2 linked regions of the Homo sapiens genome follow. The protein of the gene in region 2 interacts with the protein of the main gene of each other region in a pairwise test. Each region holds a gene or a part of one and is shown on either strand. Other genes may lie near its edges.

Evidence for each region.
Region 1: the proteins of TMEM106A (region 2) and TNMD interact in binary tests that used the Homo sapiens proteins (3 or more experiments, as listed by UniProt).

The regions. Positions count from the first base shown.
Region 1 is NC_000023.11:100,587,518-100,595,112, reverse strand, and holds part of TNMD (tenomodulin), read right to left. Parts: intron 1,219-7,595; coding exon 1,078-1,218; intron 853-1,077; coding exon 751-852; intron 1-750. UniProt on the Homo sapiens protein: May be an angiogenesis inhibitor.
Region 2 is NC_000017.11:43,207,796-43,215,395, reverse strand, and holds the start of TMEM106A (transmembrane protein 106A), read right to left. Parts: upstream 3,522-7,600; 5' UTR 3,474-3,521; intron 3,192-3,473; exon of another isoform or gene 3,170-3,191; 5' UTR 3,002-3,169; intron 2,376-3,001; 5' UTR 2,355-2,375; coding exon 2,144-2,354; intron 1,569-2,143; coding exon 1,505-1,568; intron 1-1,504. Other genes in the region: NBR1 (next to BRCA1 gene 1 protein), read right to left, coding at 5,322-5,495. UniProt on the Homo sapiens protein: Activates macrophages and polarizes them into M1-like macrophages through the activation of the MAPK and NF-kappaB signaling pathway.

The sequences.
Region 1 (7,595 bases), on a different chromosome or scaffold from region 2:
ATACTGTAATTATAGACAAAATATCAGGGAACAATAAAGAGCCTCAAGGGCCTTACAGATCGTTGTATTTTAGGCAATAACATCCATCTCCCATTAGGTTTTAAAGGGCCATTCAGTGATTTCACCAGCACCCTAGGTTGCCTTACTTTGGTCTAGCAGGGTGTTTTCAGAGAATTTGTATCCCATTGCAGTGTTCACCTTCTTTGCTTTTGCCTTTCCTACTGAGGTTAAATGTGAATTATTCCATTAGCAGCCCAGCATAAAATGGTAAGGTGAATGAACCACAATCTTTAAAATAGGTGAATACTGAAGTGTGACAAAAGTGGCAAGAACCCCAGGTGGCTTTGGAACTTTCTTTTTTAAAAACGCTTTATCTGAGGCAAGATTGATTTTGTTTCTCTGGCTCATCCCTCTTACTAGAAATCTTTGGTTTCAGAGAAAATCAACATAATGTTAATGGGTGCCCGGGTATAAGAGTATAGCATTGCACCTAAAATTATGCACTTGAGTTTTCTGAAAGGCCTAAGTTCAAGACCCCAATCTGCTACTCACTAGCTGTGTGGCCTTGAGCAAGTCACTTTTTGGCTCTGAGTTCTAGTTTCCTGATCTGAAAATGATGATAACAATAGTATCTATTTATAAGGTTGTTGGAGAATCAAAGAAAAGTAAAGCATTTAGTACAATGTTTGGCACATAGCTAGCATCCAATAAATGATGTCTTTTGCCACCACAATTATTCTTCTTACATACCTCATCTATTTCCTCTTCTGGTTCAGAAAATTCAGGAATCACTTTAATCTGAGTTTTGATAAAACATTTTTGAAGACCCACGAAGTAGATGCCAGTGTATCCCTATAAAACAGACAAAACAACAATAAAGCTTCCCAAAAGAGCCACTATTAGTAAGTTCCATGATCTGTTGGGGTCCCAGACTAGCAAAATTTGAATTCAAATGGAAAGCTAGAGGAGGCTAGCTTTCCATTTGAATTCAAATTTTAGATGGAGGCTATTTTTAACTTGACTCAACTGCTCTAATATTTTAAGTGGAAAGCCTTAGGAGGAAAACATCCAACTTACGTTTTTAAAGTCGTGCACTTCCAATGTTTCATCAGTGCCATTTCCGCTTCTGAATATTTCAGTTCTGGTCACAGGATCAATTTCCATGTAAATCTTCTTCTTCTCTCCATTGCTGTAGAAAGTGTGCTCCATGTCATAGGCCTGGGAGAACAGAGGAAAACAATCTCTAAGATACTCAGTGTGTCCCTAAAGTGAGGTGCTTTTTGGCGCTGGAGCTGATATGGGGATCCCTTCAGAGCTGGTATTTTGAATTCAAGCCAAGCTGCTGAGCTAATTACTAAGAATTCCAACAGTTTTCTTGGCAGCCTTGACTAAACAGCAAATGATAGTTTGCAAACCAGCCTATAAAGTATTTTCCCCTTGTGTTAAGCTGAGGGATCACCTAAAACCTATGCTGCTTCTTTAAGCTACCACTTCCCTTTCCAAGTGCTAAGTAATCACGACCCCCCCCTTACTGCCCCGCCCCTCACCCGTGAAATTCATTAGGGCTTAGAAAGAGATTTGAATACACTTAAAATGGTTAAGTGTTTTTTGTCTCCTTATTTATCCAGGGCTTTAATATTGCCACAACAGCCTTGAGTCTATTCCTTTTAGAATCTGAAGACTTTCTCCTTGCCAATATTAGAGCCCTACCCTGCTCTGTTTGCTTCCTTTTGCCCCTTAAACTCCAGGAAACATTTATTGCCTTCCCTTAGCCTTCTCTTTATACGGCAACCAACCCCACCCAGTTTATTCCTGGGTTCTGTTTCCCAAGCCATATTCAGTTGTTTTCAAGTTCTACGGATTCTTTTGTGTATATGGAATTAAGCCAACTGAGCCAAGTGTCCTGCATTAAGTAACATGGAGCCTCCCAAGAAGAAAGACTGCTCATCAGGTCTTTCTTGAGTGGCTAAAACAAAACCCCAGATTTTCTCCTGCACTCTAAAAGAGGCAATTGTATTTCTAAAGACCAAGAGGACCAGTCCCATATGGCACTGCAGTTTAGGAGTAAGCCCATAACTTATAGTTTTAGGACATATTTATAGGTAGAAGCAAATAAGCATAAAGGAATTTGTTATCTGTCACAAACCAGGCCAGACCTGATGATGCCTTTTGGAAGTCTATCTTATCTCTGTCATTAGGAGACCTTTGTTTATCGAGTTTCTCCATGTTCATTTTTCCTTATGAAAAAAATCTGGGAAACTAAAAGCCTGAAAAAGCAAGTCTTCTTCAGAGCCCACATTGCTTTCTAATGATACGGTTCCCAGTGGCAGCCTTATAGAGAACTTACACCAGGTTGGGTCATTTTTTAGTCTCTGCTGATGCCATTGACTGAATGTTAGTTTAACCTGGTGAAATATTCACCAACTCAACTAGAGAAAAACAAATTGGAACCATTTGTAGAAGCAAGTGTTACTTCAAGGGTGACAAGTCTAATGTAGCTGCTGAAGAGAAAAACAAGAGACAATGTCATTTACCTCTTGGTAGCCCTACAGTGCTTTGGACATGGTTGGAACCTAAGTATTTGTTGAATAAGTTGTCCCCACCAATGGCACATCCTTATCTTCCTAAAGAGACATTTTTGAGTATTGGCAAGGTCTTTTAAAAAAACCATTTTAAAAGTGAAAGAAAAACAATACTTAGAACTCTCTGGCAACTGCAGAGTTAACTCAGGAAGTCTGGCCTGGTTTGTGATAGGTAGCAAATTCCTTTAGGTTTGTTATTTGCTTCTAGCAATAAATATGTCCTCAGTTCCAGCTCTGCAGCCAGCTTGAGAAGAGAAACTTCTACCTGTGGCAACAAATTGAGCTCTCAGTCTGTCTGACCTAAGTAGAAAAGAGAGGCATCCACTTCAGATCCAGTCCTGTCAGCTCTCCCAACGGGGGAATTTTGTTAGAAATACTATCCATTTTTGAGACAAATGTTGATGCCACTAGCCATTGGGGGCTGCGGTGGGGTGTTTATTTCATCAGTAGCACCACTGATGGATTATTGTATGGAAAAATGAGGTTAGAGACTAGGGGATGCTGGAACACTGCCTACCTGGGCGAAAGAGAAAATACAGGCTGTATTTTCAATCACTGGTAGAAGACTATGGAACCTACTGGTGACATTTAGAATTTCAGTGTGCTTCTGTGGAATGAGTTTTCCTGCACTGTTGGCAATGCACTTTACTTGGACACCTTGCTAGATGAAAACTATTGGAAACTGCCAAGCTCAGCAGATCTTGATTATTTTCAACATTCCTGCAAAGAGTTTTTTTGGTAGGGGAGAAGGGGTCCATTCTGATTGTGTTCATTAACCAACTTGTTGGCTTTATGTTAGTAATGATAAGTTACTAGAGTGGGAACAGAATGACTTCGTTTATGTGTGAATCCTTGGTAGGGGGTAGGAGTGGGGAGCTATATATTCACCCAGACAGAATTCCACTATCAAAGGTGTCCTTTTGGAACAGACTGTTCTTCGTCTAGGAAGATGATGCTGGTGGCCCACTTTGGACTGTTTGGAGATGGGTATGAGCAAATCCAGACACACTGTCTCGCCTGGGTCCCTGTGGAGCACATTGCTTGGGTAATGGCTATGCAAGCTTCACTGGCCCGTATGAAGACTGAGCTCATGCCTTTGGCATCACAAGTACTTTGCTCTCTACTAAGCTTCCTGGCTCAGGGGTTGAAGGTCTTTCTGGAGATGAAAGAATAAATGGCTTTGTCCTCTCCAGGAGCAAGCTAAAGCAGAGACAGGATGACTGGCCTGAAGAGAGGTGTGAGTGGGCTACAAGTAGCTCATCTCAGCTGCCTCCAACTCAGCTTTATTCCAGGGAGGATAGAGCAAGGACAGAATATGATGAGGAGTACACCCCTGCCCAATTGGAAAATAGAGAGAGTTAATTTTTGGTGCTTCTAGCTTTCCTTTTCTGCTCTATTTTCATATTCTGTTCATTCTATACCCTCATAGCCCTTCCCCTTTCTCTTCCCATTTCTGTCCCTTTGTCTCCTGTCTAGACATCTAGGAATCTCGTGGTGCTTCAGGTACCTTATGACAAAGAAGAAATCAATCTGACCCATGATTTCACACTTAGATATTAGTGATGAATATTTGTCTGTTTAAAAATTTGAGTGCAATACTTCACTCAGAGGAATGAAGTACTAATAGTGGATTTTATTACTTTATTACTTTGCCATTACTTTCAATGGCTAAAACCACAGTTACTTTTGCACCAATCTAATAGGCACAGTGGCACGAGGAATGGGAGATATTTGGGGGCAAGGGCATCTTTCCAGCACCACTCAAATGGGCTCTTACTCCACCCACACATAAGGCTGGCCTTAACTATAAGAACCAGAACACTGGAATGGAACAAGGAAGCCAATGGAGTGGAATAGGAATCAGAAGTGAAATGAGACAGATATGTGGTTAAGTCCAGGCAGTGAGAAGTGTAAGAAGACCACACTGACAAAATATGTAGAGGACACAACCCATTTTTCTTCCCTGCCCAGGAATTCTGTCTTCAGTCCAGTTAAATCCTCCATTCAGGCAGCAAATGAGCCCTAACATCCCTCTTTCACAGTTTTCCTTGTTTTCTTGCCTCTGTGGCAGTCCCTGAGATCAGAAAAGAAAGCTATTTAGAAAAGGTAAAGCTATCTCAGACCTCAGTGTGATGGATCTGTTTTAGGGGCAAGAAGCTTTAGCCTGTCCTGACAGGGATTTGAGGACATTTGGCTTAGGTTTGTTTTTTGAAGCCTGTGATTAATCTAGCTGCTCTTCACTCCATCTTCATCCCTTACTGTCTGTTATGAGGTACACTCTCCAAAGGTGAAATACATGCTCAGAATAGCTGGCTAGCAGGTGTTAGGCTGGAAGGAAGGGAAGAGAATGCACTGTACCATATTATTATTAACCTAACTTGGGGGAATTAAAGGGCCTCTGGGTATTTCTTTACCAACACAGAGCAGACAGATTGTTCCTTATGCAAAGTTAGAGTTCTGCATCTTCAATCACCATTTGGCAATATGCAAAATATTGGCATAAGCAGCACAGACATTCTTTTTCAACAAGAAAAAGCTACTTCTTTTATCTACAGACTTGAGCTGACCAGTAAGTTTTTCTCCTACCCATTATCCCCATCCCTGATTCTTAAATGCAGCTGAAGAATAGTGGAAAGAATCTTCAGACTAGCCTCTAGTTCTAACCTTAACCCCACCACTTACAAGCTGTGTGATTTTGGGCAAATCACTGAGTGTCTCTAGGGACTCAGTTCCTATTTTAATCCTTTACCCCTTTTCATCTGTAATGTTAGATAGTTAGCAAAGTCTGCTGAGATTTGCTCAGATCAACCTGTCAGGTTGATCACTGGACTACGCCTACTGCCACTATCTGTTGATCATCCAGGCTACTTCCTCCACAGCCCCAATTCCACTCTCAACCACTCCAGAACAGCTGTCTTTGAAGGCCCAGGCTCTTCATCCTGGTGTCATATAAGTTGTTCAGCAAATGCTGCCTTAGGAGAATGAAGAGACTGACTAAGAAGAACATGCCCATCACAGCCACAGCCTGGCTCCACATAATTGCTGGGAGCTGCCCTTGAGTAGCCCAGAATAAGAGCTGGCCCAGTGAGAGTTGTACAAGGGTGGACCTGGGTCTCACAATGCTTTAAGAGGAAAATGAAGAGAGGTCTTTTTTTTTTTTTTTTTTTTGAAAATGCCAACATGGCACCATCTGGTAAAGCTCAGTCTCCCTGCCAAAAATATTCCGGCTACTCCTTCAACTTTTTCCTTGAGGGTATATTAATGTTTCTCTAGACCCACATTTCACCCACCGGACTGTGGTGTAGGAAAGCCCAGGGGACCTGGAGAAAAAAGTTGTCTTCCTTGTGTGCCTAGAGAGGAGCGAAAAAAGTTAATATTGGGCTAATGCCCAATTGTGCGTGCCAAGAAATAGGCACGCACAAAATGTTGCAATCAGACTCGTCAAGAAAGTGCTTCTTCTGAGCAAAGGATTTTCAACCTAGAATGATAGTGGACTCACAACGCTGGGGGAGACTGTTTTAGTGATCACCTGCAACTGAGGTGTGGCAGGAGGGCAGAAAAGTGCCCGCTTATCCCTACCACTCCTCATTGCTCTGGTAATATATAGAAGTTGAAGGAACATCCTCACGAATCTATTGATTACTGTGGTCCTGATGGCTTTCAAACAACCCTAAAGTCACCAGGCAGCTCCTATGTAAGGCAGTAAGGACACTCTTTCATTTATTAAATGTATGATTCTTCTGCCTCGCTCCACAAAGGATTGGCAGGGATGGGCTACAAGGTCTGTGCTAAGTTTCTAAACTGTTGGTTTAAGGGCTAGGATTTTTCTGATTTGTTTGCTTCATGTTGGATTAATTAGCTGAGGAGTTGGCTTCTGACTGTTTCCAGTAAAATGTGTAATACAGGGGGCTTTAAGCAAGAATGTTTCTTTGGTGATTCTGCTTCAATGATCCCAGGGCAGTCACTGCCTAGAAGGGGAGCCTCATTACGATGCTTTCTCAAAATTGCTGGGACTGAATAGGTCTCTTCTGCTTGTTTAAGAAAGCTGAATTCAGAGCTGGATGGACCTGGCTTTCATTTAGCTCAGGTGGCTCCTGTATGTGGCTGTGGGTCAGGGGCCTGGGACCTGTAAGAAAATGCAGCAGCTCACCCAGAGTTAGTCGTCCTTGTTTCACTTTATTTTGATTTCATTCTCTCTCTGGTCTGTGTGTGTGTGTGTGTGTGTCTGTGTGTGTGTGAGTCTGTGCGTGTGCACACCTGTGTGCACGCAGACCTGAGGTATGTGAGGGGAGGAGGTCAAGCATGGCTTGTTCTCAATTTGGATACAGGAATCTGGATCTTTTGTACACACCAAAGCGGGAGTGAGGAGAAGGACTTATTGGCATGGAAATGTCAACACCAGATGTGGGATGTTAAATAAATACTGTTTATTATACACAGATGTTGAAAGACAAAATAAAAAGGAGGCGTGGTGGAGGCTAGGAGAGCAAACACTAAGAGCTTGGAGGAAATCCCAGGACTGCAAACAAATCACTGCCACCAATAAGCACAGTTGCATGCACAGCTCTCTCTACCAAGGGCCACAGAGTCCCAACAAGTCTCATAGATTTGTTAAGGAAAGCCCAAAGAGCCTGGATTTTAATCTGCTGTTGTTTCTTGCTAGGCCATACCATTAAGGGGAGAGTCTTTAATTTATGTAAGATGCCTGTGTCCCTTTCCTATGCAACTCTTCCAAGACTAATCTGACTGCTAGTCTCTTCCCAGAATTCTTAAGTCTGCTCTAAGGCAGGCTTGTTGATAGGCGTACCCATTGGAAACATAGATGGTCTCTTGAGATCTTTGTCTGGGACCTGAAGGTAGTAGTGGACTAAGTAAAGCATCCTCATTTCCAGCTGATTTCTTAGTTTTCAATGAACCAAACCTGGTCTTATGAAGGCCATGACTTAAATATCAAAGACAATGAATCATAACTCCCCACTGGAATGGAAAACCAACAATATTTGTTCATGGTAG
Region 2 (7,600 bases):
AAGAAATAAGTCCATATTTGGAAGTTCTGAATTTTAACATTCAGAACAGGACACCATCCATCCAATTCAAAATTCAGATATGCATTAAAGAGATAGTACTTTGTTAGTATCTTATGATGTGCACTGCTAATTTCTTTTTTTTTTCTTTTTTTTGAGATGGAGTCTTGCTGTGTCGCCCAAGCTGGAGTGCAGTGGCACGATCTCGGCTCACTGCAACCTCCACCTCCCGGGTTCACGCCATTCTCCTGCCTCAGCCTCCTGAGTAGCTGGGATTACAGGTGCCTGCCACTATGCCCGGCTAATTTTTGTATTTTTAGTAGAGGCGGTTTTGCCATGTTGGTCAGGCTGGTCTCAAACTCCTGACCTCGTGATCTGCCCGCCTTGGCCTCCCAAAGTGCTGGGATTACAGGGTTTTTTTTTGTTTTTTTTTTTTTTTCAGATGAGGCCTCGCTCTGTTGCTCAGGCTGGAGTGCAGTGGCATGATCTTGGCTCACTGAAGCCTCCACCTCCTGGGTTCAAACAATTCTCCTGCCTCAGCCTCCCAAGTAGCTAGGATTACTGGTGTCTGCCACCACGCCCAGATAATTTTTCTATTTTTAGTAGAGACAGGGTTTCGCCATGTTGGCCAGGCTGGTCTTGAACTCCTAACCTCAGGTGATCCGCCTGTCTTGGCCTCCCCAAAGTGCTGGGATTACAGGCATAAACCACCACGCCCAGCCTGATTTCTAATTCTGGTATAGTGGGGTGGCGGAGAGGGTTCGGCTTGGTGGTGACTCCCAGGTTGACACCAGGACCTTGGGAGGAGGTTGAGGGAGCTCCATGTCAGATGGACTCAGATCACAAACACAGTAGGCCCCAGGTCTGCCTGAGGTTCTGAAGTATCCCAGAACAGCGGACAATAGGTTTTTCATCTCTACTAGAAGAAAAACAAGCAAATCTGAACTGCCTCAGCAAGGGAGGTGCTTAAGAAAAATAACATTTTCAAATCAATTGCAGCCAGGGCCACATGCTTGTTCCCTCCTTCCTGGGAGGACTTGCAGAGCTACCAGATCCTTCCTGTCTTGGAGAGGGGGCCATGCTTTCTGGAAGCAGTGATGCTTAAGGAAGCCCACCAGGTGGCCTCAAGTGACATCTGCTGTGCCCACAGCTGCTGCTTTTTTCTTTCTTTCTTTCTTTTCTTTTTTTTTTTCTTTTTTTTTTTTTTTTTGATAGAGATGGGGTTTCACCATGTTGCCCAGGCTGGTCTTGAACTCCTGAGCTCAAGTAATCTGCCTGCCTTGGCCTCCCAAAGTGCTGGGATTACAGGCATGAGCCACCACACCCGGTCCAGGAGCTTCTAAATCAGGAAAAAATCCTTGGACGTAAGGAGCTGGTACCTCTGAGGCTCAGGCTTTCTATGGAAGAACTAATAGGAAGAAATTAAGGGAGATCAAAACAGGGGAGACAAAGGGAGCAGCCCCCAGGGGCAATGGCTTGTGAAGCTAGGGGAGGAAGGGGGGCTTACGTGTGCTTGGGCTTCAGCCTCTGGTCCCCATAGGGAATGAGAGCCACCAACTGCTTCTCCAGCTCTAGAGAGAGAGAAGGTGAGAGGGAGGGCCAAGATGCAACTGTGACAAATATTTACTGTGCCAGCTTCCCAGAAGCACGCCTCCACCCACACCATAGAGCAATGTTAGAAACATGCCACATCTGCCCCAGAGCAGGACTGGAAGCACTGGACTCTGCTACCAAAGTTGGCAGCTCAGCTTTGCCATCTCTAGAATGGAAGTGAGATTTCCACTAATAGGTATGAAGAATCTCTGAAAGTCACCAGCAAATCAGAGATGCCCAGCATCTTTGGAAAGTTCATTTGTAACTTCCTGAACTGAATGAATCCTAGGACACACAGTGTTGCTCAGAAGCACAGTGGCTAGAATCCTTCTTTCCCACAAGGGGCTGGAGAATACAACCAGGGAAGGAGGGCAGGTTTTTGCAGGGAACCCAAGGATAGTTAAGTATCTCCCTGGCCAGCCTGAGACTGGGAGGTCAAGAGCTGGGAGCAGATCTAACCCCATCCAAGGAGACTCAGAGGGGCTGCCCCAGGCCAACAGGCTAAGAACTTTCCCTGGATTCCAGGCTATTTCCAGAGCCTTGGGCCACTCACCTTGGGGAATCTTGCCACTGCCCTGGCAGGTGGGACAAGTCACGAAGCTGGCATCAGCAGTTCCTTCACAAGGCACACAGGAACAAAAAGACTTGCTGCTACCGGTGCTGGAGTAGTTGACAGCCTTGCTGCCAATGGCTGGTTTGGAGGACAGGATTGACTTGTTCTCATCCTCCCGCCAAGAGCCCAGCTGGGAAAACGTCTTACCCATTCTTCAGGGGCGGGGGTTTCACTAATGAGAAAAGACCAAAGTTCAGTGCTAAGCTTGTTAGCACTGACGCCAGATGTAATTTTGGTTTGAAGTTCTCAAGACTGGCAAGGAGCTTCACCACAGTTTAAGCAAGCTCAAGCCTAAGGAAGATAGGATGTGAAAAACTGGGTGGTCACATGGGACTCTCAGAAGTCTCAATGCATTTCGACTCCTTTCATTATTTTAAAAGAGACCAATCTGCCTACAAAAGGGAAAACAAAAGAAAAGCAGAAGTTACTTCACTTTAAGGAACTTCCATAAGTGATTGTCAGAGCATTTAATTTTTCTCTGGAAAAGTTGCTGAGCTGTCATTCAGTTTAAGGGAAGGAAGTTGGATAGGGCAGAAAAGAGATTCTTTGAATCAAGGAGAGAGGAGGCCAGACTGGTCACAGGTGTGGTTAAGACCCCTATCTAAAGAAGCCCTGGGAGAAAGCAGACACCTCACTGCTTTCTGAGGCGGGGTAAGAAAGCCTGAGGAGGGTCATAGTGATACCAGGGTCTGTCTTTCACTAGGAAAACTCAAGGCTAAATCTGGACTCTGTGTGACAGAACGAGGCCGGCAAGTGAGCCACACAGATCTTTCTGGGCTAAAATATAGGGATGCTCACCTTGTTCAGGTCTGGGATCCCAGGCTCCTCAGCCGCACGAGGGCGAGACTTCTGGAGTGCGTCTTTGGGGAGAAGGGCCTCTAAGGGCAGAGTGGGCTGGGCTGGGCTGAGCTGAGCTGGGCGGTGGTGGGGAGAAGCACCGCCTGGGGCCGGCAACCGGCCGGAGTCCTAGGGGAACGAATGTGCCGCACTGGAGAGTGGGGATAGTAAGGACGCTGACCTCCCCGAAGGGCCAAGCCGATTCCTGGGCTACATGGGGGCTCTGCCATGGGCCGACCGGGTGGAAGCGGACGGAGAAGGTGTGACTTCATTAAGGGAGGATTTCAAGTCCCACCACACACCCCTAGAGGCCGTTAGTCAAGCTTGGTACCCGTGCGGGGGGCGCCTGTGTGTTGGGCGAGGAGGCGGCAACAGGAGGTGTCTTGACCTCCGAAAGGTAAAGTAGGTATAAAGGGTCTAGGGAGGGCCTTACCCGCGGACGACTGCAGCGACAGAAACGGAAGAGAGTGGAATCGAAAATGCGGGAGCGAACACTCCCCTCAAGCTTTGACTCAGTGCCCAGGGAAGTCCCGCCCCAGCCCCTAAGGGCCCACCCCCCCGTCCCCCGGTCCGCCCCTTCGCCACGCAGCAGCCTGAGACGCTGCCAGCTCTTCAAACGTTACCCGAGGGCCCGGACGCTGCTTCCGCAAGGACTAGCCAGTCCGGGTAGGAATTTCCAAGAACATTTATTTCACCATTCTTTAGGTGGTTATGTACAAGTACATACATAACCAGGAGAGCAACCCGGGCCCTCCTGGCCCTCGATTATAAAACTCCGATGGTCAAGACAGGTCCCACCCATCAACCCAATTACACCCTGCCGCTCCACCTTCTACCCGGAAGCCCCGATTAAAACGTTTTAAATAATGAACGGCCTGGCTGGCTTGCAGTTTGAATCCTGGTTTATTTAAGTAGCATTCAGGAGTTATACTGTAAATAAACATCATTATGGCTAATGACTAATTAAAATCACCATTCATTACAAATACCAACCAGGTTAGATAATACTATTAACTATCTTTTCCCCTTCGGTCTGGGGTTCATATTCTTCCTTTTCTGGAAGTCATTTTCATGGATAAAATATTTAGCATTTTTTGTTACCTCTTCCTTCACCAACTGTACTCAACACACTTCTGTAAACAGAGTGAGAACCTGGGTTCATGGACAAGCTCTTTTCCACTTATCTTCGGGTTAAACCAAAACTTTTTCAGCAACTTTGCCCCTGTCCAAGTTTTGCAGAACACCAGCTGCCTCTTCCTGTTCTAGGCATTCTAGGGCTAGATACCTGTGAACGGACTTCAAGCATTAAAGAAGTCATCAGCATTTCCTATACCTCACACACACTCATTTGCCCACCCTGAACTTCACTGACATTAATTTAGGAGCCTGCCTTTTGCCTTTCACATGTTTCTATTTCCCCCACTGTACTGTAAAATAAGATCTGCCCTGACATTAAGAAAAAAGGCAACTGTTAAATTTACTTTTCCCTTTAAATAACGGGATTTTTTCCTTTTCTATAAGATTAGCAAAATATTTCACAATACCTATATTTTTTCCCTTAAATAAAAATGTATGCAAAATTACTATAATAGACATTGCTCAATAGGTGCTGGTAGGTTTATCAGCACACTCTTCCTCCTTTCATTGAAATGCGGAGATTCCCTTGAAGTTGGATACTCTTGAATGCACCATGGAGTCTTTAGAAAGCAACGGTGCCAATTATTAAGTATTGCAGGAAAATTACTTTCTCCTTGAGAGAGGAAGAGTAACAACATTTCTATCATGCTCTGGGTGTTATTTCAATGCCAAATAACTATGAAGCTTGAGGTGGATTACAGAAATTATGAGAATAAGAATTATGAGAATAATTCTTAAAAACAACTTCCGAGGTTAATGTCTTTCAAAACCTGAAAATTAACAGATATCCCCATAAAAAATCCACATTAGCCAAAGAAAAATACTCAGTTTCAATAAAAGCAGAAAGAAAAATGGTTCTATATGAAGTTGAAGTTACACTTGTCAATGCACTAAAATAGTTTTATCCAAATCAACTGAAAAACTGTCTTCATACTATTCATCCAATGTCTAAAGTGAAAATTTAAGTTCTGGTCTTTAGTTTGCTCCCCAAAATACTGTAGCAGGTATTGTCTTGGTAACTCAACGATGGGCTCTATACAGATTCATCAGATTAAAAATAAGCAAGGGCTTCTATCCCATACCCCAATGACAGAATAAAGATCATCTCTGAGCAGCAGGCAGTTATTTAATACAAGGTCACTCCTCAATAGCGTTGGCTGTACCAGTCGTTGTTGTTTAACTGAAGAAGTTCTGTCACAACCTGCAGGATATTGTAATTGTGTTTCTTCAGCAGCCGTAGGTTCAGCTGCCTGTCACAGAATCCCATTTCAAAGAGATGGGCCATCAGGGCTGCTGTCTGATCTTCAGAAATTATTGGCTGTGTAGAGACAAGCAAAGCAAAAAAAAAAAAAAAAATTCTGTATAATTTAAATGTTTATTTTATACATTTGTATCATCTTGCAAGCATACTAGTCTTTCCAGATTTATTCAAAGTACTAGGTAATTAGATTCAAGGCTATGGCACTCCTGTGTACTTGATACCAACGGTTCGGACTGGGAAGGCCCTATTTTAGATTAGTTATCTGTGTACTTGAAGGAGGAGAAAAGGGAAACCGGGGAGCTAATGAACTGTACTTAGAACCAGGAGAATGCTTCACTCGGGGCTTTCAGGAAGAAGCATTTTTTGGCCAGATGAAGGAATGACAGCAAGCCCCAGAGACCCTGTGAACATAAGTGTAATTGTGATGATGGGGGAAGTATGAGCAAGATAAAAGTGTTACTGAAAGATGCTATGGGAAATTTTGTCAGATATGCAGAGGAGCTGGACAAAAAAAACAGCTTGGGAAATTACAACCTGGGAAGGCTTCTTGATTTTTTCTCCTCCAAAAGAATAGGTAAGAGGGGCTGGGTGCGGTGGCTCACACCTGTAATCCCAGCACTTTGGGAGGCTGAGGCGGGCGGATCATGAGGTCAGGAGATTGAGACCATCCTGGCTAACACAGTGAAACCCCATCTCTACTAAAAATACAAAAAATTAGCCAGGCGTGGTGGCAGGCGCCTGTAGTCCCAGCTACTCGGGAGGCTGAGGCAGGACAACGGCGTGAACCCAGGAGGTGGAGCTTGCAGTGAGCCGAGATCGCGCCATTGCACTCCAGCCTGGGTGACAGAGCGAGACTCCATCTCAAAAAAAAAAAAACAAGAATAGGTAAGAGGAAGTTAACATTCATTCATTCAAGCCCTGTGGTGGAAGCATTACCTTCCTAAATCCTTAAACGCTTGTTTTGTTGTTGTTGTTGTTTTGTTTGTTTTTTGAGACAGGGTGTCACTCTGTTCCCCAGGCTGGTGTGCAGTGGTGTGAACACAGCTCATTGCAGCCTCAACCTCCTGGGCTCAAGTGATCCTCCTGCCTCAGCCTTCCAAATAGCTGGGACCACTGGTCTGCGCTACCACGCCCGGCAAATTTTTAAATTTTTTACTAGAGATGAGGTTTCCCTATGTTGCCCAGGCTGGTCTTGAACTTCTGGGCCCAAGTGATCCTTGAACTTTGGTCTCCCAAAATGCTGGGATTATAGATGTGAGCCACCTCGCCTGGCCTCTGGTTCTGTTATTATCCCAATTTCACAGACTGGGGATACTGAAACTGTGCAGCAGAAAGATTATTAACTTGGGAGGCAGATAGGCTTAGACTCAAACCCTAATCTTCCATTTACTTACCAACTGTGCTATCAATTCCTTTATGAACTGAAGATATATCATACCTCCTACTTTGCAGGGTTGTTGAAAAAGTATGTAAAGATGAGAACAGTATGCAAACATGTTAAGCATTTCCCTCCAAACCTGATTCCACTGTTCCATTCTACCTTCTTATTTCAGAATAGATTATCCATCCTCCTTTGCAGGTTAATGGAATGTACCTTGCATTGTATCTTATTACCTCTCACCACTTCAGAAATCTTTCTCCATCTCCAATCTGTCTTCTCATCTTTATCATTAACCTCTTTCACTGCTGGCTTGCCCATCTCTAAAGTCTCACCCAACTTTAAAAATGCTTCCTCTTGTCTTATGTATCCTAGCTTCTGCCTGTTGTAGCCTGTCTATTTGAAAGTGTGGCATACTTCTACTCTCAAATTCCTCACCACCAGTTCATATCTCTCTGTAGCATCTAACACCGTTGACCATGTCCCCCTTATTAAAACACCCTTCCTTAAGTTCCAGCATAGAACTCTCTCTCTTCATTTTCCTCCTAGTTCCCAGCTTTCTTTCAGAGTATTCCTTTCCCTGATCCTTAAAGGTTGCTTCTTGCTTTCCCCATTATTCCTGGATCATCTCATTCCATCAGATGGCTTCTGCTATAATCTGTAGGCAAGTGACTCTCAAGCATGTATCACCAGGCCAAATCCCTCCCCTGTGATCTGGATGGATACCGTTGGCTTGCCATTATCTGTGGGTTCCTCATCTATGGATCAGTCACCAAAGGACTGA